Homo sapiens: one gene and its partners. The protein of the gene in region 3 interacts with the protein of the main gene of each other region in a biochemical or structural test. Each region holds a gene or a part of one and is shown on either strand. Other genes may lie near its edges.

The links.
Region 1: the proteins of MUC7 (region 3) and SELL form a complex in vitro, tested with the Homo sapiens proteins (one study listed by BioGRID).
Region 2: of the proteins of MUC7 (region 3) and GALNT14, one has a biochemical effect on the other in vitro, tested with the Homo sapiens proteins (one study listed by BioGRID).
Region 4: the proteins of MUC7 (region 3) and LTF interact in far-western blotting, tested with the Homo sapiens proteins (one study listed by BioGRID).

Annotation. Positions count from the first base shown.
Region 1 is NC_000001.11:169,690,149-169,694,634, reverse strand, and holds the end of SELL (L-selectin precursor), read left to right. Parts: intron 1-2,832; coding exon 2,833-2,851; 3' UTR 2,852-3,968; downstream 3,969-4,486. UniProt on the Homo sapiens protein: Calcium-dependent lectin that mediates cell adhesion by binding to glycoproteins on neighboring cells. Mediates the adherence of lymphocytes to endothelial cells of high endothelial venules in peripheral lymph nodes.
Region 2 is NC_000002.12:30,911,435-30,918,466, reverse strand, and holds part of GALNT14 (polypeptide N-acetylgalactosaminyltransferase 14), read left to right. Parts: intron 1-6,124; coding exon 6,125-6,244; intron 6,245-7,032. UniProt on the Homo sapiens protein: Catalyzes the initial reaction in O-linked oligosaccharide biosynthesis, the transfer of an N-acetyl-D-galactosamine residue to a serine or threonine residue on the protein receptor.
Region 3 is NC_000004.12:70,475,186-70,482,217, forward strand, and holds part of MUC7 (mucin-7 precursor), read left to right. Parts: intron 1-5,613; coding exon 5,614-6,693; 3' UTR 6,694-7,032. UniProt on the Homo sapiens protein: May function in a protective capacity by promoting the clearance of bacteria in the oral cavity and aiding in mastication, speech, and swallowing. Binds P.aeruginosa pili.
Region 4 is NC_000003.12:46,461,895-46,469,785, forward strand, and holds the start of LTF (lactotransferrin isoform 1 preproprotein), read right to left. Parts: upstream 3,012-7,891; 5' UTR 2,974-3,011; coding exon 2,931-2,973; intron 1,761-2,930; exon of another isoform or gene 1,550-1,760; intron 1-1,549. UniProt on the Homo sapiens protein: Transferrins are iron binding transport proteins which can bind two Fe(3+) ions in association with the binding of an anion, usually bicarbonate. Lactoferricin binds to the bacterial surface and is crucial for the bactericidal functions.

The DNA of each region.
Region 1 (4,486 bases), on a different chromosome or scaffold from region 3:
TCTTTACTAGTGCAAATGGAGTCTAGTGAGGAAAGGCTTCTTTCTCTGGGCTGGTCTCCCTATGTCTGTGGCAGGAAACCCACAGATGTGAAGATTTCTTTCAAACTCGCACCTACTGAGTGAAAGTATTTTCTGGCACAATCTACCCAGAGCTGTTTTCTGGCTACCGGAACCACCTGTTTTAATTGCCACTAGATGGAAGCAGATCAACTAGATTTTTTTTTTTTAAGATGTCCTTGAGGCACAGGAGGAGAGACTGGCTGGAAGAATATTAGCAAAAAGCTAATTACCATGCTAAGCAAATTGCTATATTAAGTTTAATGGTTCACTGATTTTTTATAATCAGTCAATTAATAGTTGTTTATTGAACATTTTTGTGTTGGAAACTGCTAAGCTTTCTTGAGACAGCAAGAGGAGTCAGCCTGGTCCCTGATTTCAGGAAAATTATTACCTAGCTGGGGAGTTAAGACAGGAATATAGAAAGAAAAAAATCAGAAAAATACAAGGCAGAGCATGGTAATGGCCAATGGGTGCTATATTTAAGAAGGAAAAGGTCATTTGGCTTGGTGGTTATAGAAAATGTTATAAAGAAGGTTGCTTATGAAGAATAGATAGGATTTAGGTATATGGAGAAAAGCAGGAAAGGAAGGCAGTCTGTAGGAAGGAAATTGTGTAAGCAGTGGTATGGTAGTGAGACTATGAAAGCATTTTTCAGGGGCCACTGAGCAGAACTTTCTTGAGCCCATGGCTTATTGAGGAGTTGTGGAGTTGAAGTTGGAAAGGAAGGCTGGCCCCAATAACATAAGTCTTGAATGCTTCACCAGATGGTCTAGAAAGGCCTAGCAAAGAAGAATTATTTGCCCAGCTCTCATTTATTGACCAAGGCTGTATTAATTCATAAGAATCACAGAATTCTAGGTCTGAATATGATCTTGGTGGATATCACATTCAAACTCTTTTTGTAGTTGAACTAATTAAGTAAGTTTTCTATAGGCCTTGAGCAAGTGACAGAGTTAGTTACAATAATCATAAACCTTTATCAAATATTAATTCCATGTTGTATACTGTTATGAATGGTTTACATGTCTTAAATCATGAAATATGCCTTTAAGTCTGTGGGAGAAGGGTCTATGAACATCTTCATTACTGATAAAGAAACAGGCACAGAGAAATAAAATAGCCTGAGGTCACAATAAATGGCAATGCTGAGATCCATACTCATTTGGATCCAGGAATCATGCTCTTAACGCGTATGCTTTTAGAACTCAAGACCCTTGACTACCAGCTTAGAGTGGCAAGTCCCAGGCACCCTCCTTTTCCAGTAACGTGGTTTTTTTTTTCACACTGAAACCATTGTGTGACGGCACTGAGGAAGGGTGGGGTAGAAGTATGGTGTGTTTTTAGAACAAGTCAAAGGTAAAATGAATACTATCACACTAAACACCATGAGCCTTTTTTTTTTTTTTTAAGTTCTTGGGTGAATTTTCATAGTAGTTTGTGTTCATTTCTATTAGCTTTTGAATGGTGAATGAATGACTCCTTGGGCATTTGTGGTTTCATTTCTTGCTGGGTTATTTTGACTCTTCTGCAAAATGACTCTGTTTATCACCTCATTTGGTTTCTACTGTCTAAATTCTGGCAGGATAGAAGCTACACCCAAGATACACAGGAAGATATGATGCCAACCTCAGAGGAGGGCATATGTGAAATTTTGTTTTCAGAAACATTTTTTTGTCTCTATTTTGGCAAGCACATTTGCAGCTGCTGAACTGTGGTTTACCCTGACAGTTCATCATGAGACCAGCTCCTCAGAATCTGGTTCTCCCTTTGAAAGGTGCTGTGAAGACATACCATATTTCATTCTCTCCTTGTCCTTTCCAAGAATAAGACAGTTGTGTCACACAAAAAAAGTGTCACTTATTTCTTTAAACTAAATGTGTTACCATCTCATTAAATTATATCCCAGGATATAATTTATCACGAGTTTATAACCACCACTATTTCATGAGTTTAAATTTTCTCCAATTTCACTTTCCATTTAAGCATGCCTTCTAATTCCTTGACTTTCCACTGCTCAAAATCAATCTACAGCTGGGCTCGGTGGCTCACGCCTGTAATCCCAGCACTTTCGGAGGCCGTGGCAGGTGGATCATGAGGTCAGGAGTTTGAGATTAGCTTGGCCAATGTGGTGAAACCCCATCTCTACTAAAAATACAAAAATTAGCTGGGTGTGCTGGCACGTGCCTGTATTCCCAGCTACTCAGGAAGTTGAGGCGGAAGAATCGCTTGAACCCAGGAGGCCGTGGTTGCATGAGCTGCCTCCGTGCCACTGCACTCCGGACTGGGCAACAGAGTGAGACTCCATCTCAAAAATAAATAAATAAATAAATTAAATTAAATTAAATTAAAATAAACATAAATTTAAAAAATCAATCTACACTGTCCTTCAGACTCATTAGATCTGGAGACAAAGACCGTATGCACCACAAAAATTTCTCCAAGTGGGGTCTGTGCGCCAGTGGCATAAGCATCACTAAAGAGCTTGTTAGGGGTGCAGAATCTCAGGCTCCACTCAGACCTACTGAATCAGAGTCTGCATTTTAACACCATCTCTGAGTGGTAAGCACATGAAAATCTGAGAAGTGCTGCTACTAGGGTTTGCTTACATTTGTTCATCTTCAGAGGTTCCTAAAGCCTGGCCTCTTGTCTGAGATTTCCAGCTGAAAGCATTTCCTTGCTCCTCTTCTCATCTCTAATGAATATTTACCTTTACTACTAACACTCCAAGTTTTGCAATTTTTAAACTCTTATTATCTTTTGTTTTTCTTTCAGTATGAATGACCCATATTAAATCGCCCTTGGTGAAAGAAAATTCTTGGAATACTAAAAATCATGAGATCCTTTAAATCCTTCCATGAAACGTTTTGTGTGGTGGCACCTCCTACGTCAAACATGAAGTGTGTTTCCTTCAGTGCATCTGGGAAGATTTCTACCTGACCAACAGTTCCTTCAGCTTCCATTTCGCCCCTCATTTATCCCTCAACCCCCAGCCCACAGGTGTTTATACAGCTCAGCTTTTTGTCTTTTCTGAGGAGAAACAAATAAGACCATAAAGGGAAAGGATTCATGTGGAATATAAAGATGGCTGACTTTGCTCTTTCTTGACTCTTGTTTTCAGTTTCAATTCAGTGCTGTACTTGATGACAGACACTTCTAAATGAAGTGCAAATTTGATACATATGTGAATATGGACTCAGTTTTCTTGCAGATCAAATTTCACGTCGTCTTCTGTATACTGTGGAGGTACACTCTTATAGAAAGTTCAAAAAGTCTACGCTCTCCTTTCTTTCTAACTCCAGTGAAGTAATGGGGTCCTGCTCAAGTTGAAAGAGTCCTATTTGCACTGTAGCCTCGCCGTCTGTGAATTGGACCATCCTATTTAACTGGCTTCAGCCTCCCCACCTTCTTCAGCCACCTCTCTTTTTCAGTTGGCTGACTTCCACACCTAGCATCTCATGAGTGCCAAGCAAAAGGAGAGAAGAGAGAAATAGCCTGCGCTGTTTTTTAGTTTGGGGGTTTTGCTGTTTCCTTTTATGAGACCCATTCCTATTTCTTATAGTCAATGTTTCTTTTATCACGATATTATTAGTAAGAAAACATCACTGAAATGCTAGCTGCAAGTGACATCTCTTTGATGTCATATGGAAGAGTTAAAACAGGTGGAGAAATTCCTTGATTCACAATGAAATGCTCTCCTTTCCCCTGCCCCCAGACCTTTTATCCACTTACCTAGATTCTACATATTCTTTAAATTTCATCTCAGGCCTCCCTCAACCCCACCACTTCTTTTATAACTAGTCCTTTACTAATCCAACCCATGATGAGCTCCTCTTCCTGGCTTCTTACTGAAAGGTTACCCTGTAACATGCAATTTTGCATTTGAATAAAGCCTGCTTTTTAAGTGTTAACTAGTTTGCCTAGTTTGTTATTTTGAAATTATCATATGTTTTGTTTTCTCCCCAGTGAGATTACATGCTCCTTCAGGGCAGAGTTTGTGTCAGATCCCTGGAGTATCTAGTGCATTACTTGACACTCAATAAATGAATGTTCAAATAAATCAGAAAGAGCATACAGTGCACTGCTGATATAAGTTTCAGCAAACCCTCTTTCTCTATGGCATCTGATGACCTGGGCAGATATCACCTAATGTCAACAGCTGAATTCTTATGAGAGAATAGAGCCCTTTCAGAAGCTAGCTGGAAATACCTCCTTGTCCCATGGCCAATATAGATTTCATACAAATTTGCACACATTATGAGAATAATTTTTTGGTAATGATTACACTTTTCTTTCTCAAAGACATCTCAGATTCTGTATTATAGCAAAAGCTGTTGCAAAAGATTCTCCCTATAGTACACTGTAAATCTTGGATGTGCAAATCACATTCATGTGGTTTAGGGTACATCCCCTGGAGGTGTACAGTGCA
Region 2 (7,032 bases), on a different chromosome or scaffold from region 3:
AGCAATTGAGCATTTGCTAATGGAAAGCACCACTCTGGGATAGGTATTAACCCATTTGTTCCTTGCAGTGACCCTCTTAGAGACTGATGTCATCCTCATTTTACATGCAAGGGAACTGTGGTACAGAGTTGAGTAACTCGCTCAAATTCACAGGTTAATAGGCAGCTCTGTGGGGATTCTAGCCCTGGTATCACCCCAGGATCCAACAACATGACCCAGCGAAGATGTACTGAGTGTGGGCTTTAATCACACATATAAGTGTAATCTTGCCACATGGGAGGAAAGGACAGAATGGGCTGGAAATAAAGAAAAGACCCCAAAAGTGGGTTCATCAAAGTTTCCAATGGAAGGAGGTGTGTCTAGGAGCCCACCAGGTCATCCTGCTGCCTCTGGAGAAAAAGCCTCCACCAGGGAGGGACTGAGGCAGACCCCAGCACAGCCATCAGCTCACTTGTGCTGTTGTCACAGTTGGTACAATCACTGCAGCTGATGCTTCAGAGAGCCAGAGGCATCACGAGGGCAGTTCATTTGAATTCAGGCTCATCCATTCTAGATGCCTTGTTTGAAGGGAGAGCTTCAAGGCTATGTCTCAGGGACCGTGGAGGTACCCAGTATGGACTAAGATGTTCAAGGCCCTGGATACTTGGCTCAGGTCTCACCTCACCAAGGAGAGGCCAAGTTCAGAATCAACCCTGGGGTCTGCTTCTGGCATTGCCAGAGTAACCATTGGCCCCTTTGATCCTCAGTTTCCTCTTCTACAAAACGGGAACCGTAGTGGTTATGAGAATTAAATAGACAATGAATGTGAAGCAACTAGCACCAGGCCTGGCCCTTGAAAGAGTCTCTTACAAGCAGTTGTCACTTTGGCTGTCTAACTACAACAAAACCAGCAGTGCTGTCCTGCCCATGCCTGGTGGTGTCACCCCTCCTGGAGAGAGTATTGACAGATGGGGTAAGGGAGGCTTGGAGAGACTGCCCAGGTGGTATGTGAGTAATGCCAGGGCATGGTTCAGATACAGGCCTGCCACCTGCAGAGCCCAAGCCCTTCAGGTGAGACTAGGGCTTCTAACCCTCAGCACTACTGGTAATAGGGCCAGATCCTTCTTTGTTGAGGGGTTGTCCTGTGCAGCATGGGATGTTTAGCAGCATCCATGACCCCACCCACTGGTGGCTAGAAACACTCCTTCACCCAGCCATAGAACCAAAAATGTCTGCAGACACTGCCAGAGGTCCGCTGAGTGGGGAGAGTCGAGAGCCGCTGCTCCAGGCTGATTGTTTCTTGCCTACCAGAGGCAGGGGCCCTGGGCCATTCCAAGAGCAGCTCCTCTGCCTGGGCCCAGGCTCGTCCTCACTCCTGCCTCTTTTTTTTTTTTTTTTTTTTTTTTTTTTTGAGACGGAGTCTTACTCTTTTGCCCAGGCTGGAGTGCAATGGCATGATCTCAGCTCACTGCAACCTCTGTCTCCCAGGCTCCAGCAATTCTCCTTCTTCAGCCTCCTGAGTAGCTGGGATTACAGGCATGTGCCACCACACCTGGCTAATTTTTGTATATTTGGTAGAGATGGGGTTTCACCATATTGGCCAGGCTGGTCTCAAACTCCTGACCTCGTGATCCACCCATCTCAGCCTCCCAAAGTGCTGGGATTACAGGCAAGAGCCACCGCGCCTGACCCTCTTTTAGTTACCTCTTAAGACAATCTTTCATCCCTGCTTCGCCATCCTGTGCAAGACCACAAGCCCCAGGCTGGGTGCTGTGGCCCGTCTGCATCCCAGCTTCCACAGCTATGGCCAGACTGGCATCTGCTAGAGAAGGTTACTGACCCCTGCCTGTCCCCTCCCTGCTCCCACCAGCAGTGGCCATCTCCAGACGTGTCCTCCAAGCACAGAAGGTTTTAAGGCTGTCTGACCCAGTCGATCCCCTCCTCATTCATTGGTGACTCCCCTCCTCCTCAGCCCCCAGCTGGCCTATCCCAGTGGAGGGGGCAGGGTCACCCACACCAACTAAGGACAGTCTCTGGGTTGCCCTTCCATGGCTACAGCTTTGGGATAGGAGGGACGGTTCCCGGACCAAACCGAGGGTTGAGCTGCTTATTCTCATGGCCCAATAATGAGATGCAGATGAACTGGGAAAGAAGAGAGTTTATTTCTGTAACCGGGCACAGAGAGAAAACCTGGAAATTATCACCAGACCAACTCAAAATTACAAAGTTTTTCAGAGCTTATATACCTTCTAAGCTGTTTGTCTACGTGTGAGTGTGCATTCATCTAAAGACATAAGTGATTAACTTCTTCTAATCTATAACTAAGGTCTGAGTCCTGAAGACCTTCTCCTGGAGCCTCAGTAAATTTACTTAATCTAGATGGGTCCAGGTGCTGGGGTGATTACTCTTATCTTGTCTCCTGCTAAATCATGGAGGTTTGGGGAGTTCCTTCAGACCCCAATAAAACTTGTTTGTGGAGGTCTGGGGAGTTTCTTCAGACCCCTGATAAAACTTGTTTAATCCTAAACAGGTCCTGTTAAGAATTCCTTCATTATCTTGTCATGCTTCAAGGCCCAGGAAAAGCCTAGACAAACTCTTGGTGGGCTTTTGTTACATATAAGCTTTTGTAAAAGGGCACTGGCCCTTTCAGCCTTTAACATTTAACTTACCCACTCAGTCAGGGCTGAAAGTTGTCTTAGAGGCCTGCCTGTTCAGCTGTTAGGGAGACCTGGCCTGCCACAGGACCTCCATCATGGGCTAGGCTTTTGCCAGGCCCCCAAACGAAGCCACCAGCAGAGGGCCCAGCACTCAGCGAATCCAGGCCAGACCTGCTGAGCAACCTCTGCTGCCTTCCTGGAGTCTGTTTCTGACTGCAGGATTCTTTTAATAAACTCATTCATCATGGCCCTTCTGGGAAGTCTGACAGGCTGCAGAATGGAAATCCGAAAATGCTCTCCTTGCTTCCCACCTGTATGCTCCTGTTTCCTGCTTCTCCTCCCTCCTCTCCTCTTTCAGATGTGGCCAGACATCAGCCTTCCTCTGGGACATGACGAGGCTAAGTTATTGAAATGCCAGGAAATACCAGCTAATGGAAAGTCCACTTAGCATGAGGGCTTCATTAGCTGTGCCTGTTCACACATTCTCCTTGGGGGTCTTTGAGATGTTTTCATCAAGTCCCGGCCTGGGGACACACCAGATGCCCAAATGCATTTCTTCCTGAAAGGCATCTGTGGACAACAAGGGTAGAGGATGTCAAAATAACTGCCCACCCACCCACCCATCCAGCACTTCCAGTTTTGGGACCCCTAGGATATTAAAAAAGAAGAAATGCCAAAGTGGGCTCTCAAAAGAGGCTTTTATATTTAATCAGTTAATGCTTTTAACACAAAAAACACAATGTCATTGTATGATGGTGATTGTAAGATAATGGCAGGATTCATTTTTGAAATACTAATTTGTGGTTCCCTACAGACTCTATAGTCAGGTAATGGGTCAGAAGGAATGAACTTAGTCTTTCCCTTGTACTGATCTCAGGGCATATGGCTTCCTGGTAGTCCAGCTGTTGCATTTGACCTTTTGGCCCTTCTCTCTCCTCCCCACAGGCCAAGGAATATTCTAGGCCCACCTTCTAGATCACATTCTGGATATTTAGGACTTCAGAATCCCCCACCCAAATGGCCCCAGCCTAATTCAAAACCCTGCGTGGGTCTCATCCCTGGGTTTGTCCTCCGAGGGTGGACTGTGTCTCTAGTACACATCCCCAGGTCCAAGGGAGACCATTTAGAGGGGAATGACTCAGCTTGGATATGCAGCCAAGGTAGGGGAAGAAAAAGGCGGGGCGGCTCAGGCTAGAAGCCAGCACTGTGTGTATCCTATGGTTTGGTGTAGAATCAGGAGTGTGGGCCTCCATTCATACTCATGGCCGAATTACTCTATTAGAGAGGGCACTATTCTCTGGCCTGCCCCACCCCAGACCTTGGCAAGGGGGTACAACCTTTGTTCATCTTTTCATAAAGGTTGTCATTGGGAACTGGCCAAGAAGAAGAATCTCTTGCCACTCTCCCCTGTCAAGGTGGAGCTGATCTTTGGTTTTAATGTCTACAACCTGGAAGAAGAATCTCAGGGGCAGGTGTCTTCTCCCCGGATTAAGGTTATCTAAAAGAGCTCAGAGCCGGCCCTAACTCTCCAGCATCAACAAGAGCAGAGCTGCTGGAGAAAGTTGGTGTGGGGGCCACTTGCTGGTGTATGACTTTGGATAGCCTCTCCGAGCCTTGGTTTCATCATCTATAAAATGAGGATAATAGTAATACCTACTTAATAGGATTCTTATGAAAATTAATCAATCTGTGTAAAGTTGTCAGGATAATGCTGGGCACATCATAAGCGCTCAATAAATGTCAGCTCTTATTAGCAGCAGCAGCAGCAGCAGCCTGGTCATTGCACCACCTCTGTGCGGACAGACTTGTTTCCCCTTTCAGCTTATCTTGGAGAAAGGCAAATGGGATGTGTAGAATGTGATGGTCACAAGGCCAGAGAAGAACTTCTTGATATGTCCCAAGGAATGTATCTCATGACTTTTTATTATAGAAAATTTCAAATATCTATAGATACAGAAGTCGAATAGTATAAAGAACGCCCATGTACCCATTGCCCTGCTGTTAAGAACAAGACTCAAGGACAGTCTTGTTTCATCTATATTTGCATCTCTCCCCAGGGAGTACTTTCTGATCTAGGTCTTCTCCCAACACCAACAGTTTGAAAAGGGATAAAAGAATCCTAATGCAGGAGCCATTCTCCCACTAGGCCGGTGAGTCCCAGATCAAGAGAGCCAGGCGTCATTGTACAGCAAGTCAGGTTGACTCAAGGTGGACGTATTCAGGACAGCAGAAGGTCCTGAGCCTGTGGGAGTGGTTCCTCCGAACCACCCAGGTCCCAGAAAACAATTAAAGCTTTCAGCAGCCCATGGAGGTCAGGAGAGGACCAGGGACCAGGAGGGAAGATGGAGAACGAGAGACAGATGACCACCATGTCTGCCTGGGGGACACCTTGTCCTAGAGTAGGAGGCTGGCCTGCTAAGTGGACTTTTTCATTCTTGGGCCAAGGGGAAGTAGCCAATGAGTAACCTGGTCCAGAGGCTCAGGGTCAACTTGTTTCAGGGATGTGGTGGAAACAGATACAGCCCTCAAAGGATCCTCCGCAGCTTCCCCAGGGGACCCAATTCAGGAATCATCTTTGCCCCCAGACGGAGGCAAAGGGTAAATATTACCTTATTTTACAACCTGGGGGAGAAAACGCTTATGCCAGTACTTTCTGCCCCACTGACTTAAGAACTGGGAAGTGCTTGTGGCTTCATAATCCAGTTACTCTGTGATCTCTGGTACTTTGGAGGAAAAATGTTGGAATCATTCCTCATAATGAATGACACAGCATGCCCTTCTTCCTGATGCCAACAGAACTCTGCTTGTCAATCCAATTTCTCAGCTTCGCTCCCTGAAAGAGCTCAGGGGCCAAAAGATCTATTATCCTGGCACATGCACCCTCCTGAAATAATTTGAATCCTCATAACATTCTTCTTTCCCTAGACCCTTCTTTATTCATTCCCTTGGAACACTTGTTCCATTTATCCTTCCATCTGCCTCTTGTCATAACTCTCATGTGCTCTAGTCTCATGTGCTCTGGACACTGACTTGGACTGCCTTTCAAAGAACAGGGGAGAGTCTAAAGATATCTGGTATGGAGGGGTGGGGAGTTGACCTGCTAGATGGCTGCTTGAAATGTCAAGTGCTGGGAACAGACCCCCTCGAGATGTTTTCTCCAAACAAAAACTGTGGAGCACACAGCTCAGCTGGGGTTGTTGTTCAGACTCCTGCCCAAAGCCCAGAATTGTTCAGGACTCCCAGAGGCAGCCTGAATGGCCCAGGCCCAGGCCCCTTCATGGGGTGGATGGAGATTTCCATGGAGATATGACCTCCGAGTCTCTGGCACTTGAGTAGCATTTTCCAAGGTAACCTTGATGATCATTGCCTACTGGGACCCTTGGTGCTTCTTACCAGCCTGTGCTAATCACACCCGTAAGTGTGGTTGTATCCCACGAGTGGTGGCTTCCTGGATCCTGAACAAACCTTCCTGGTCTCTTTCTCCCCAGGTATGGGCCTTCACATACACCCAGCAGATCCTCCAGGAGGAGCTGTGCCTGTCAGTCATCACCTTGTTCCCTGGCGCCCCAGTGGTTCTTGTCCTTTGCAAGAATGGAGATGACCGACAGGTAAGTGCTCAGCAGGTCCCTGGGATGTGGCCAACTCCGTAATGTGACTGCCTGTTGAGGGCTTAGTCTGATGAGCAGGAAAAGAGAGAAATTGTTAGAAGAGGAAGAGTTGATAAGAGAGGTCAGGAGAGGGAGGGAAAGTGCTGCCTGGGATCCCCTCTGTGATGCTAGCAGCAATGGCAACATCCACCCTCACTGGTCAGCCTGCCCCATGAAAGCCTATTGATTTCCACTGACCACACCATGCCCAGTCATCTTCTACTTTCCTGTCATTGCTCTGTTCCCCACGTGGGATCCCAAACAAGGATCTCAGGGTCACAAGGATGAGCAAGACTTGACCCTTGCCTTCAGGGCCCTGGGCTCTGGCAGTATGTCCCCCAAACTTCCTAGCATTCTGGATGCACCACATGCCCAGTTCCTCTAGCAGCAAAGTGATGTCTCCATTCAGTTTCTTGCCAACTGGGTATTGGTGTTAGAGAGAACAAGATTCAAATGCCTGTTTTATGGTTTACAGGCTGTGTGACCCATGGCAGGTTATTGGACCTCTCTGGATGTCCATTTCCTCCTCTCTGAAATGGGGTTGAGAATGTCCACTACACAGGGCAGCTGTGACTGTCTCTTGGCAGTAACGTGCTCAGTGCCCTCTCCGGGGTGCTTCCCCTGATGTGTCCAGTCCCTCCTTTGTCATGCGAGGTCAAGTGTGAGAACCTGCTGCATGAGACCTGCCTCTCTGCTCTGGCCCGTCGTGTGCTGACACATTTTGAAGAAGCCCCCAGCCCCTCCTGCCA
Region 3 (7,032 bases):
GGAGAATTGCTCGAACCTGGGAGGCAGAGTTTGCAGTGAGCCGAGATTGCATCACTGCACTACAGCCTGGGTGACAGAGCAAGATTTTGTCTCAAAAGAAAAAAAAAGAAAGAAATGAACAAAAACGTTCTAGTTTGGGGCATGTTACATTTGAAATGGCTATTAGACTTCCACATCAAGATATCAAGAAAACAGTGGATATATGTTGTCTGGAGTTCAGAAAGAAATCTAGGGGTAAAGTCTATATTTAAAACATACTTGAAGCCATGAAACCTTACAACATTTTCACCTAGGGAGAAAATGTAGGAAGTTTAGATATGGATAGAGAAAATGGAGGACCCACAAGAGGGGACAGGAAAGGATGGCTTCCAAAACCAAGAGAAGACTACAAAGTGGACCTTCTATCTTTAAGAAATTTAGGGTGTACTGGCAAAGGAAGATTAAAATTAATAATGATATAATGTGATTACAAGGTGATACATGCTGTAATAATAACCATATTTTTCTCTCATGCTATGTACCTGCAAGTATTTATTAAATTTTATTTTGACAAAATTTCAAATAAGAATCAAGAAGTGGAATGTACTTTTTTATTGAATGAGGATGGATAGCCTCAGAATATTACGCCAGTAGAGTAGAGAGAGAGAGGGCAGAAGAACTGATGAAGTGGACGGAATTTACTCTTGGATATTCTCATATTTCTCACTTACCTTATAATATCCCCCAGAAAACAATCAGGCTTTTTCCCGGACCCTAATGCTGATTTCTGTGACTAGAAGAGTGTTCAAGCTGGGCTCAGAAGATGTGGGCTTAAACTCATCTCTAATGTTTACCATCCAGATGAATCTTGAGCAATTTAGAATCTATTTATAGGGCCCCAATTTCCCTATGTGTAAAATAATAACAACACTATATGCTTCACAGGGCTGCTGAAGGGTAAATGAGAATTTATAAATTATAAACTATAGTGTAGATATAAAAATTATGACAAGATTATTGTAATCTCAATTTACATACTAGTTGATAAGGCTTTAAGTTCTGAATATGCACAGTGATGTTAACTTTTTAATAAGTAAAGTTTTAATAAGGAATCCCTGGCTACCAACACCTCTATATTGAAAGAAATAATTTTCCAATCAACACAAGTCATGTTATTGTGAAATGATGAATCTGGGTTGTTCTTTTGAAGTGGCCTTTCATCATAACTCCCTCAAATCCAGACACCTAAAGAATCCTTTCTTCCAAGTGCTTAGAATAAATAAAACTCTTCAAGCTGCCCAAATCTCAAAAAAGTGCCTGGTGAGAGAAAGAGTTTCCAAAGAACTTGAATATGAGAAGGTAGCACAGAAATACCTTGACCTGATCCTTAGAAAATACAGGAATGTGAGGTCAGGAGTTCGAGACCAGCCTGGCCAACATGGTGAAACATCGTCTCTACTAAAAATACAAAAATTAGCTGGGCGTGGTGGCCCACACCTGTAATTGCAGCTACTTGGGAGGCTGATGGAGGAGAATCACTTGAACTTGGGAGGCAGAGGTTGCAGTGAGCCAAGATCGTGCCACTGCACTTCAGCCTGGGTGACAGAGCGAGACTCCGTCTCAAAAAAAATAAAAAGAAAAGAAAATACAGGAATGTACCGGAGATTAGCATTAACCCACAGCCAGAAAAGGTCAGTCCTGGAGCTCTAGCAACAACCTGCTTTTGTGGAGTGATTTCAGGGAGCAGATAGTCTGGCTTCTCTCTTCCAGATGTCCCAAAGAAAGACTTGAAGGGATGTATTCTGGAGTCAGATGAAGAGCTCTGTCAACTATAGCATTATTTAGCATAATGCTTTCATTCTCTTTAAAAAAGGATCACAGATTTTCAAATGGTCATAAAAATAAGCTGGTAGCAAATGAAGAAATGAATTGTGCTTTCTAATTTCAATTAAATGTAATCTTGGGCCGGGTGCCGTGGCTCACACCTGTAATTCCAGCACTTTCAGAGGCCGCGGCGGGAAGATCACCTGAGGTCAGGAGTTCAAGACCAGCCTGGCCAACATGGTGAAACCCCCATCTCTACTAAGAATACAAAAATTAGCCAGGCATGCAGTACACACCTGTAATTCCAGCTTCTAGGGAGGCTGAGGCAGGAGAATCCCTTGAACCCAGGAGACGTAGGTTGCAGTGAGCTGAGATCATGCCACTGCACTCCAACTGGGTGACAGAGTGAGACTCTGTCTCAAAATACAAAAGTAAAAAATGTAATCTTGGCCTTTCTGTCTTCTAATTCTCTCCCTTTCTGACTAATTTTCTCCTCCTCTTCCTTCCTCAGAGAATTTGGCATTCCTCTAGTTATTTTAGGAGTCTTCTGCTTTCTCATACCCTCCTTTCTTGCTGCAAGTGCCATGTGTCTCTCCTTCTCCTTCCCTTGACTCCAGCCTACTCTATCCTTGTTCCTCATGTCTTCTCCCTCTTCTCTGCTCTCAAAAGTACAGTTTGCAAATGGAGAAACATTCTCCTAAAAGTTACTTAGTCTGAGACTCAGTTTTCCCATCCATATAATGAAGATAATAACCGTACCCACCTTATGATATTACTAAGAAATTAAATAAATTTGTATTTGTAAACCACTCAGAATAGGGCCTAACATAAAGTGTTACATGAAGACTTTTTTAATAAAAATAAATAATGAATGTGAACAGGCAGGCAGGGTTGCTATCTTTAATACACCCTCCCTGGCATATCTATATTTATTATAAGGACCTCCATACTTCAGTCACCTAAACTCAAACTTTAGAGGCATGCATTTTCAACTCCTTCCTCTCTCAGACTTCTCTAAATCCAACTCTAGTCTACAATTTCTGTTATAACCACCTGTAACTGCCAATCATAATAACTAATCAATATATTAAGTAAATCAAACAAACTGGTCATTTGATACATGTTCCAGGCCAAGCTAACATTAAAATTAATAGGATTTTAATCAATTTGCCTTCATATAAAAATGTGGTAGGTATTATTTTGGTCACCTAAAGTAAAATAGCTGAAACTATTTTACATATGAATAAACACTTTTAAATGTTAATACTTTATTCAATAACAAATTAGTTATTGTTATCATTTCCATGCATTTACTCATTCAATTAATAGCTAATGAGTACCTGCCATATGCCAGGCATAGTTTTAGGTATTGGACTTACAGAGGTGAATCAAAGAGGGGCCTTCGTGAGGCTCATGTGATTAAGGGAATGAACCACATAACTATTTCAAAGCAAATAAAATTAGACTTTGGATCTGGAATTTAATTTAATCCAAATCATTTTATAAATGAATAAGCCGACATCCAGGCACATTAAGTGACTTGACCAAAGTCACTCAGCTATTCAGTGGCAGACACAGGACAGAGCCAAACCTCCACTGCTGGTCTGTTGCAGCATGTTTCATACATGTTCCTATAAGATCTGGACATTCTTTGCAACATCCTCAGAGACCATCTGGAAAGGGAAAGACCGAGATCATGGAATGTGAGGCCCTCAATCCTGCTTCAGTCAGAGCAGGTCCTTAATTATGTGGATTGCATATTCAATCTCCAGGGAAAGATCTGTTTGAACAATATGACCTGTTCTATTTTATATGAGAAAACAACTACCCCTGTAATGGAAAGGATCTCCTCAGAGATTCCTGGAGTCAGTGTTACCGATTCTGAAAACCTATGCCCTTTTAAGAGAGATTTATGGAAAAATACCAAAGTCATGTGAGTATCAGAAGCCATTATGTTAGCTATTGGTTGTTCTCAGTTGTGAATTAAAATTTCCTGGACAATTTAATTTTCTAAACAAATAATACTTTCTTGTATTGATGGATGTTGTGGAGAATGTCCAGATCTTAGAGGAACATATTTGAAACACACTGCAACAGACCAGCAGTGGAGGTTTTAGTCTGTCCTATGTCTGGCATTGAATAATTGAATGACTTTGGGCAAGTCACTTAATATGCCTGGATCTCAGTTTATTCATTTATGAAATGATTCGGATTAAATTAAATTCCAGATCCAAAATCTAATTCTATGACCTCTTTGCTTTGAAATAGTTATGTGGTTCATTCCCTCAATCACATGAGCCTCACGATGGTCCCTGTTTCATTCACCTCTGAAAGCCCAGTACCTAGAAGCTATTTTTGAGGTTGGATATATTAGTCTCTGAGGAAGTTATCTTAGTTAAACAACTCAGCTAGTCTCTCAGAAGTTGTCACTTCATCTGCACTAAACTTTGTGTCCAAAGAAAGCTTTATAACTTGCGACTGGAATGATTTACCCATTTGGTCATCTAAAAAGGGCTTCTGTGAACATCATTAGGAAGAAAACGTAACCTATCCTTGTTTGGGATGTTCTCATTTATCCTGTTATATTTCTTTTCTCCAATTTAATATAACTGATCACTAAAAAATGTAGTATGAGATTGAATACAGGGAAGAGGGATATAAAAGGCATGAAGTATGTTTACAGATAAGAAACTGAAACAGTGATGGTACTCTAACTCAAATAATGTCAGCAATGGCTAAAGGAAATAAAAATATCTTGCAAAATGATGACCCACATGGCATAGAAGTTATTTTCAAATTTTGAAAGACTTCTGGATCTTCTGTAAATCTGCCAAAACAAAATTAGGACCAAAGGATGGAAATCTTCATGAAGAAAATTCTACTCAGTTAAGAATGAAAATCCCAAAAAACAAACCTACATTCAGTGTCAAGAACTCTCTACCAGGCGGCCTTAGGAATTACAGTAGTGAGTTCCTAATCAGAAGAGGTTAGATGCATAGACTAGAAAGCCTTTCAGCAGGTGTATTGATAAAAGATCAAGTATCAGATGTACAGTTGGACTGGATCAGTGTTCTTTTCAGATGTAAACACCTTTCAGAAATCATGAAAACCATTGGTGCTCTATCCAGACAAAATGCATAAACATGCAAATTTTCTCTAAAAATCAGATGACTCATGAACCCCCGAATCATGAATTCTATAATTCTAATTTTTTAAACAATAAAGTTAAAAGGTAATGACCAAAGTTGTTTCTCCAATTTATAAAGGCTAAAAACTGTTTCCTGAAATATGGAGAACATGAAGCCGGGGTGGGATATTTTGTTTGTTGGGGCTTTGTTGTTGTTTGGCTGTTTCGTATTTTGATGATGGTAGATATGAGGGGTGTAATCTAGAAAGGGCTCCTGGATCTCAGTTGAATGTCTTTGACTAAAGTTTTGTGAACAGGCTGAGCAAGCAGGAAGCTTTTGTGATGGGACCTCAGGCAGTAACTTGACCATTTTCCACCAGAGGAAGAAGAGAGGAACTGTAAGCACAAAAGTTCGTATCCAGCTAAGCATTCAAGCTAGAACCCACAGGAATATATTCATCCCAGCTATCTAGAGAGTAGACATTTGACAAAAGAAAACTCTCTAGTAGCAATTCTTTCTTGAAACTTGGTGAAATTAGGAAGATAATCACTTGACTCAATAATGTACTCTGGTTTCTAATCCCAGCATTCCACAAATACCGCTCATCTCATGGTCAGCAGTGATCACCTGATTGATAAATGGATACTTTTTTCATTTCTTACATTTTCTTTCTTTTCTGCAGTTCAGTGAAGGTCGAGAAAGGGATCATGAACTACGTCACAGAAGGCATCATCACCAATCACCCAAATCTCACTTTGAATTACCACATTATCCTGGACTGCTAGCTCACCAGAAGCCGTTCATTAGAAAGTCCTATAAATGTCTGCACAAACGCTGTAGGCCTAAGCTTCCACCTTCACCTAATAACCCCCCCAAATTCCCAAATCCTCACCAGCCACCTAAACATCCAGATAAAAATAGCAGTGTGGTCAACCCTACCTTAGTGGCTACAACCCAAATTCCATCTGTGACTTTCCCATCAGCTTCCACCAAAATTACTACCCTTCCAAATGTGACTTTTCTTCCCCAGAATGCCACCACCATATCTTCAAGAGAAAATGTTAACACAAGCTCTTCTGTAGCTACATTAGCACCAGTGAATTCCCCAGCTCCACAAGACACCACAGCTGCCCCACCCACACCTTCTGCAACTACACCAGCTCCACCATCTTCCTCAGCTCCACCAGAGACCACAGCTGCCCCACCCACACCTTCTGCAACTACACAAGCTCCACCATCTTCCTCAGCTCCACCAGAGACCACAGCTGCCCCACCCACACCTCCTGCAACTACACCAGCTCCACCATCTTCCTCAGCTCCACCAGAGACCACAGCTGCCCCACCCACACCTTCTGCAACTACACCAGCTCCACTATCTTCCTCAGCTCCACCAGAGACCACAGCTGTCCCACCCACACCTTCTGCAACTACCCTAGACCCATCATCCGCCTCAGCTCCACCAGAGACCACAGCTGCCCCACCCACACCTTCTGCAACTACACCAGCTCCACCGTCTTCCCCAGCTCCACAAGAGACCACAGCTGCCCCAATTACCACACCTAATTCTTCCCCAACTACTCTTGCACCTGACACTTCTGAAACTTCAGCTGCACCCACACACCAGACTACTACTTCGGTCACTACTCAAACTACTACTACTAAACAACCAACTTCAGCTCCTGGCCAAAATAAAATTTCTCGATTTCTTTTATATATGAAGAATCTACTAAACAGAATTATTGACGACATGGTGGAGCAATAGTATATTGTATGTTGTAAAGTGTTCTGTCATTTACAAGATGTGATTCATGAGTGCAGAACTACCACCTTTCTTTTAGCACCAATCCCAACATGAAATTATATTACTCAGATTTAAAGCACTATCATTAATCTTTCAATCTAATTATTCACCACCACAAGACCTATTAACAAGACAAAATGCCTCTATCCCACAAGCCAGATGCAGGTCTGGGGTTCAAAATAACTCTTTGGATCCTACAGAGATAGCCTACTGAGGGCAAAGAAAGTCCTTAGATAAAGAGAGAATATTGTATGGGCCATCAACCATTTACTTTTCCCTGAATGTTAGAAACTACAAAAC
Region 4 (7,891 bases), on a different chromosome or scaffold from region 3:
GTAGAATGTTCAGCCTCTGCTGTCTCCTGTTTCTGAGCCATCCCCTTATGGCGAGAGCCACCCATGGCCCTTGGGTGGGCAAGAGGCCTGTAGCTCCCTGGCTGAGTCTGCAGAGGTTTGGGGACACCTAGCTGCCATACTCCCCCTTCATCCACCCTCATCCCGGGGAAATCCCAGGGAATATAATCTTGCCTTGGAAGCCTTTATAGAACTATCCCACACTGAGAATTAACCCAATCAGATGCAGCCATTTGTGACCCAGTGAGCATTAACTGGATGCCTGCTGTACAAACAGCACTGTGTGTCACGCAAGGAATGTGTAAGCGGACAGGACCAGATTTCACTTCTCACTGGAGAGGCAAAAATCCAAAAAGAGGAAGCTAAGAATGGTGGATGTGTTAAAAGAGAACAAATACCAAACAAATACCAGCTAATGGAGACATACGTGTCTCCATTAGTTGCCACAGCTCCTCTGTATTGTGAATTCTGCCAACCTCTCCATTCTCCAGGGGAGGGAGCTATGGCTTTAACTAGTTATGTGGCTTGTGGAAGTTCCCATAGCTAATAAGTAAGTGTTGGATCTAGGACTCCAACCTAAGCAGTCAGGCACTAAACTCCCCTACTCTTACCACTGGGCTAGCCTGCCTATTTAGGTTGGCAAAGTTAGAGACAGGTTGGAGATGGGGCTAGAAAAGGGTCTGGGTCAGATCCTGGAAAGTCTCCAATGCTGATCCAGGGAGGTCTTATTCAGGATGCAGTGAAGCTGTGACTCACGGGAGACTCTCCCTAGGGCAGGGGCAGAGTGAACTGAGACCTGGGAACAGGCAGAGAAGCTGTGGCCAACGAAGGCACCAGGGAAGGGCTAGTCTGAGTGGAGAGAGGGGACAGCACTGAGAACAGAGAAGGGGGCAGGGAGCTGGTATCAGAAATCAGCTTGGTAATGGGTGGGTTCTGGGGGTGAAGGGAGAGAGTAAAATGGAAGACCATGCCTCAAGCCGGAGGTGGGGGCTGAGCAATGACGGGAACCTGTGGGCAGAGTTCATTTCTTCCCCTAAGAGGAGCTGAACCAGAGTGACTAAAGGACCGCTGAGCTCCCTTCCAGGATTCCCAGTCCCCAGCCCCCCAAACACCAGGTGAAGTCTCCACGCTCTTACCTCCCAGCTCTGGAGCTGTGTGACCCACAAGCTCTTACCTCCCAGCTCTGGAGCTATGTGACCCCCTGAAGCAGGTCTAGGTCTGGCCCCTCCAAAATCTTCAACCCCACACTTGTATTCAGTGTCAGGCACTCAGATGCTGCCCACTGGACCTGGCTGGACACTGGCCAAAACACACATTCTGGGCAGACATGCAGTGCGCTGGCCTCCAAGGCAGGGGCCAGGACAGGAGTTACTCTCCCCACCTACCCACACAGCTCATGATAGGGCCCAAGCAGACTGCTCAGACTGATGGGAAACCTCATGAGTGCCTCCCAGCCCATGGCTCCAGGGCTAAGCAGACAGACTCCTCCACCCAATGCTCACACGGCTTAGATCCAGCTGGCCCCACTCACCCAACTTCTGTCAGCCTGGACACCCACGGGGAGCAGGGCAGGAATTCCACAGGGCAACTGCCACCCTTTCCTCAGGAAGGACAAGGGTTGCAATGGCACTTTGGGGTACAAGCCACCATCCCAATTGACTGCAGGATTCAAACTTCAGACCTCAGTAGGCGCCAAAACAACTAAAGATCCAAGTGAATATAAAACCCAGTGGTGCAACTCTGAGCCAGAATCCTGGACCACAGCCCATGACCACTTCCAGGAAGGCAAGGCTTCCTTCCTCTCCTGCCCCTCCCAGGTGGCCCTAACCCTGTGCAACAGGCCACTCGCCAGGGAGCTTGAGGGGAAGAGAACAGTCGGGTCCTGGCCAGTCCCAATCTGTCTTAGAGAAGAGAAGGATGACCAACACCCATGGGAAGGAATTTGGAGCAGGAGACCAGAAGGGCAGGGACAAGGATGGGTTTGGGCTCCCACTGCTGCTCTCTATCCACCGCCACCTCTTCCATCCAGGAAGCTCCCAGCCTTAGGTAGATGCCGTAAGACAAGTGGAGGCTGCACTGGGCTGGGGAGGTGTGACACCTGGGCTTTCACTGTGCCCCTCCCACTGCCTAGGTCCTGATGCCCATCACAGCCCTTTCTGCTGCGGCCTGGGACCTTCCCCTCCCGGTGCTGCAGGGAGCTCCGCACTCACGCATTTAGGTCACTAATGTGCAGCGCTGGGGAGTGCCCTCTGAGCACCCGAGAAATTACTTTGGTTATGGAACTGACAATTGTTTCCTTCCTTCTACTCCTTCCTTCTGTTTGGCTGACATTTCCCTCTCAAACCCTCTGACACAGGGTTCCATCAGGAGCACCGCACCCCTCCACAACCCTCTGCCACGGAAGGTGTGCGAATGCCCCATCTCCTCCTCACAACCCTGTGGACCCATGGTTAGGCCGTTTCTTTAAGTGAAGAAACTAAGTCTCATAAAGGCTCGGTCTTGCTGGGGTCTCACAGTCCTCGCAGGAGCTAGGATCTGGACTAGGGTCCTTGAGCTAGTCGCTCACCCTCTCTGAGCCTCACTTTCCTCCCAGGTAAAACGCATGTCACAATACAATGGGGACCAAATCCTTAGGCGGGACACAAAGGGACAGGGGCCTGGGAGGCCTTTTGAGAAGCTCTGAGCAGAGCTAGGCGTGCCCCGATCCGGCTTGAGGAGCCCAGCTCCTGTTCCTCCCCATGTGGGAAAGAGACTGGCCCCGCGTCCGGGCCGCCTCCCGGCTGTAGGCGCTGGGACCGCGGGGCGCAGAGACCCCGCGCCCAGCCAACCGGACACAGGGACCAAAGCGCCTAGCAGACAGGGCGCAGGAGACGCCCATCAGGCGGCTCGCGCCCCCAGGCACCTGCACTCACCGAGGGCCCCGAGGAACAGCAGGACGAGGAAGACAAGTTTCATGTCTGCGGTCTGGAGGCGACTTGGCAAACGAAGGCTCTGCCACTTGCGCCTGCCCTGCGCCCCTTTATTCAGGGCTTTGCCCCGCCCTGTTGCCCAATAGACACCCCTTCCCTCCCCACTCCCCGCGGCCAGGTCTACTTGTTCCTTGAGGATCCAGGCTCCGAAAAGCCCTGAGGCAGGACAGGACTCCACACCGCGCTGCGAGAGGAAAGCCAGCCTGCACCTCACCTGTCCTGGTTCTGCCTGGCTGCTGCGATGTTCTTTCTCTCCCACTAGTCTGCAAGCCCCTAGGAGTCGCAGCCCCCTGAGCCCTGTCCCAGCTCTGGTCTCAGTGCCTTCTAGAGGGCAGGACACAGAGCAGAGGGTCTTTACTTGAAGATCGCCTTGACCTGTGAGACTGCTATCTTCTTCAGCAGATGACCTTGAAGGTGCCTAGGAGCCAGTTAGGGCAGGTGGATTTGCTTTCACCTTGGCTCAGCAGTGAGCTGAGAGTTGAAAAGATGACCCGACCACCCCCAGCAGCAGCCTAGGGACAGCTGACAGAGAAAAGAGAGGCTGCCCAGAGTCTCAGGCAAGCTGCCCATGGGGTATCTCCCTGCCCTGCTGAGACCCACAATACAGCTCCCAGAAAACAGACAGGGACCTCAGAGGGGAATGGCCACCACCCAAGGCTGGTTCCATGTTCTTATTTGCCAATGAGAAAGATGCCCTATGGCTAAGATGCCCTACCACTTTTTTTTTTTTTTGTCTTTTTTTTCTCCATCTCCTCCTTCTTCTTTTTTGGTGTTGATAGTATTCAGTAGGAAATGGTAACCTCATTTTAACAATCGCCATAAATGTCAGATTTTAAAATTCAAAAGCTAGAATACTGCTTCTAAGAATACATCTCGTAAATACATTCCCATGACACACAGCACCCCAGGTACAAATGTTTCCAGGCACCACTGCATGCCATTAATCAGTTGGAAGCAAACTAAACATCCATCTCTAGGGGAGTGTCACATACAGCATGGTGCCTGTGGGACACATTGGGGGCCTCAGAAAGAATATCCTGTGTGTATGGATGTGAACTTAGCCCAAGAGTAACTAGGCAGGGCACAGTGGCTCATGCCTGTAATCCCAGCACTTTGGGAGGCCAAGATGGGAGGATCGCTTGAGCCCAGGAGTTCAAGACTAGCCTGGGCAACATAGGGAAACCCCCATCTCTACAAAAAATACAAAAATTAGCCCAGCATGGTGGTGTATGCCTATGGTCCCAGCTACTTGGGAGGCTAAAGTGGGAGGACCATTTGAGCCTGGGAGATGAAGGTGGCAGTGAGCCATGATCATGTCACTGCACTGCAGCCTGGGCAATAGAGTAAGACTCTGTAACCCCCACCAAAAAAAAAAAGGGTAACTAAGTGAAGAAAAAAGGTACTAACAGTGAGGGAAATAATAGGTCACCTGAACACCTTTCTTGGCAGGTGAGTCTGACCAATATGTGACTCTGAAATCTGCTTATTCTGAAAAGCTGGTCTTGACTCTGCTTAGACTACTTGGTACTAAAAAGCATTTCCTGGAGCAGATAGGCAATGCCCCAGGGAGCCAGCTCTGCCAAGAGTGAGCATGCAGTGGGCACCTAGCCATGGAGAAGCAGGCTCAGCCCAAGGTGGAGAGGCCATTAAGGAGGCTGGGGAGCCCCTCCATTTCTGGGCATGATCCTGCCAAGGCACAGGGTGGAGGCTAATCAGGGATCATGCTTGCCTGCCATGAGACTGGGGTCTGAGATTTGGTGCTAGAATCACCAGCTGGGTTTTGGGGTGACAGATCCAAGGTCTCTCATTGTTTGGAAACATGATATTGCACCATTTAAAGTTGCCATCATCAATAATTGCAATAAGTTCTTTCAAAAATACTGAAGAAATACAAAATTGACTAATTCCCAGGAGTGCTGAAGCATCTTTGTACCTAAATTGGCAACAAGACTTTGCCTTTTCATCATTATAAAAGAATTAAGAAACATCATAACCCGTGTCTCTTTTTCTGAGTCCAAATTTTAAAAAAGGATGACTGGGAGGTCAGAGGGCCCTGGGCCCTCTTAAGTATGTTACAGTGTTGGCAAGAACACAGAGAACCTGGGGCCACTACCAAGAGGCTCAGCTTAAGGAGTGCCCTGAAGGCAGCATGGGTAGGCAACAGGGCAGACTGTTTTCCTGCTGTGCCTGTTGGAACAGCCCAGCCCCAGGGCAGGGATGTGAGCATCTGGACACAGGCAGAGCAGCCCCTCAAGGCCATTTGCAGAGGAGGCTGATGTAGGGGATGAGTCTGCCCCAAAAAACAATGAAGTTTCACTGATCTATTAACAGCATTCATTCATTCATTCATTCATTCATTCATGCCAGAACTGGTAGATGCCATGAGAGACAGAGAAGAGGGGTCTGTCCTTGCCCTCAGGAGCTCACAGCACTATGGGGGAGGGACAGTCACAGGAATGCACTTCTATCACAGAGGCTCCCTAAGAAGAGGCCAAGCAGCATAAAGCAAGTGAGTGTGAGGGCCCAGAGGAGGAATGACCAGCACCCATCATGAGGGCTCCAGAAGAACTCCAGGAAGATTTAGCCTGGGTACCTGAAGGAAGGGTGGGATTTCTACAGGTAGAGCATTCTGTAAAGTAAACAACCAAACAAGTAAAGGCTTGGGAGCATGAACCCAGTGACCAATTACCTGAGCACTAGGGACAACAAAAGTTCCCTCTGGCTTTCTGGCCAGGAATTCTTTTTTTCTTTTCTTTTCTTTTCTTTTTTTTTTTTTTTTTTTTACCGACAGGGTCTCCCTCTGTCACCTAGGCTGGTATGCAGTGGTGGTGCAATCACAGCTCACTGCAGCCTTGACCTCCTGGGCCCAAGCGATCCTCCCACCTTGGCCTCCCAAAGTGCTGGAATTACAGGCATAAACCATTGCACCCAGCCATGGCTTGGAACTCTTGTTGGAAGAAGGATTAACAAAATCCTCCTCCTCTATCCTGAGCTCCACATCATGTGTTCATCTGCCTCTGGAAAGGTACTCTTGCAGGTCCTGAAGGCGCCTAAATTTAATGCATCGAAAATGCAACTCACCCAGTCCCTCCAACCCTGAACCTTTTCTCATATTTCCTACCGCTTTCCACCAAACCCACCAAAGAGCCGCAGAGGCACCCTCAAATCCTTTGGCCAGTTAGCTCTGTGCATGTTATAGGCACTTGATGATCAATATCGGTTGAAGGAATGAATAAATGAGGAAGAGGAACAGGCTAAGAAAGGGACAAAGGATCCTGTTTGTAATGTGTTGGGTCTGAAGGATAGTGAGGGTCAGGGCTGCCTAAGCCAGGCCATGCCAAAGCCTGTGTACATGGACTCATTAACTTACCCATTCATTCAACACTGGTCTATGGGACATCTCCAACGTGCCAGGAGTTGGGTCAGATCTCAAAGAGCCTGCAGGGAAGCAGAATGCAGGTTTCCAAATGCTGAGACAGTAACATGAGTTTAAGGAGCACAAAGAAGGTAGCTGCTGTGGAAACTGCCATGCAGTGGCAAGAGCTAGTGTTCAACAGGCAGATGTGTGAGGCTGACTCCCTTCCCCCTAACCCTGCTCTGCCCCCACCCTCAAAACTCCTCCAGGGAGCCTTTACAGAATTGCAGGCCCAAGCCCCATTAGCAGGCAACAGTCTCTGGCCAACCTAAGTCCTCCCTGCAAGCCAGTAAACCTCACACCCTGCCCTCTATGAGCCTCTAGCTTCAAACCCCAAGAAGAGTGTTGGGAAGGAAGTGTGAGATCTGAGTAGAACTGGCTTCAGGTGGGATAAGGCAGAAAAGGCCTTCCTGAGACATCAACTCACGCTTGGACAATAGCTTGGCAGATGGGAGACCTTGGGCCCTGTATCTTTTCCCTGCCAGTGGTGAGAGATTGCTGACTTGAGAACCACTTGTTAAACATTTAGGGATTTGGGGTGGGTTAACTGATGGCAGCTTGATATCAGGCATAGTCGATGTATTTATGCCATGGAATTAGCAAATGCTCTAAATCAGGGCTTCCTCCTTCCACACCCCCAGAGGGCCAGTTGACCAGCACACAGCTGCCTACGTTCATCATTGGTGGCATGCAGTGTCCACATTAGTGTGGGTGTGTTTGTGTATGGGTGGCTGTGCCATCCCTAGCAGAGAAATAGGATAATAATCTTTAATATTTGGATGACATTTTAAAATCCAAATAGTGCTGTCAGTGACTTTGTTTCACATGGCTTTAACAACGACTCTGTGAGTTAAGACAGTCACTCTTTCCATTCTAAAAACAGGTACTCTGAGTGTCGCCTGAGGTCACACAGTGAGTGAGATACAACTGCTATCCCTGAGTCTCCCATTAGGCCCACAGCCAGGGGCTTTCTCCTCCATGAGCCAAGAACCCTCTGAGAGCTCAGGGTGCAGGGACTGAGGCCCAGGGATCTCAGCACAAAGGGAACCTGGCAAGAATTGAACCTTCCGTGAAGCAGGCCCTGCCTGGCCCCTTCCACACATCAGCTGGCTTCTGATGCTCTGGAAATACCAAAAGGTGCTTGTTATACCTGTTTCCAGCTGAGTGGACTTGGGCAATGCACCCTGTTCATGGTCTCACAGCCAGTGGACAGTAGAGCTAGAAATCCACCCGGGACCCCATCCAGTGACTTCTTAGGGCCTTGGTGTCTTAGTATTGATCATTTATTTGCTGATCACCCTGAAGAGAGGGGCAGAGAATGGGGGAGAAGGAGAAAGAGATGGATGGAGAGCTGCCTGTGTCTCTACCCACCCAAGTCCCCCCAAGATCCCAACACAGACAATGACCTTGAGAGAAAGGCCCTCACATTTGGCCCCACATTGGCCCTTTTGAAGACAGCCAAAGGCCCTAAGAGTCTGGGAACGTTTCT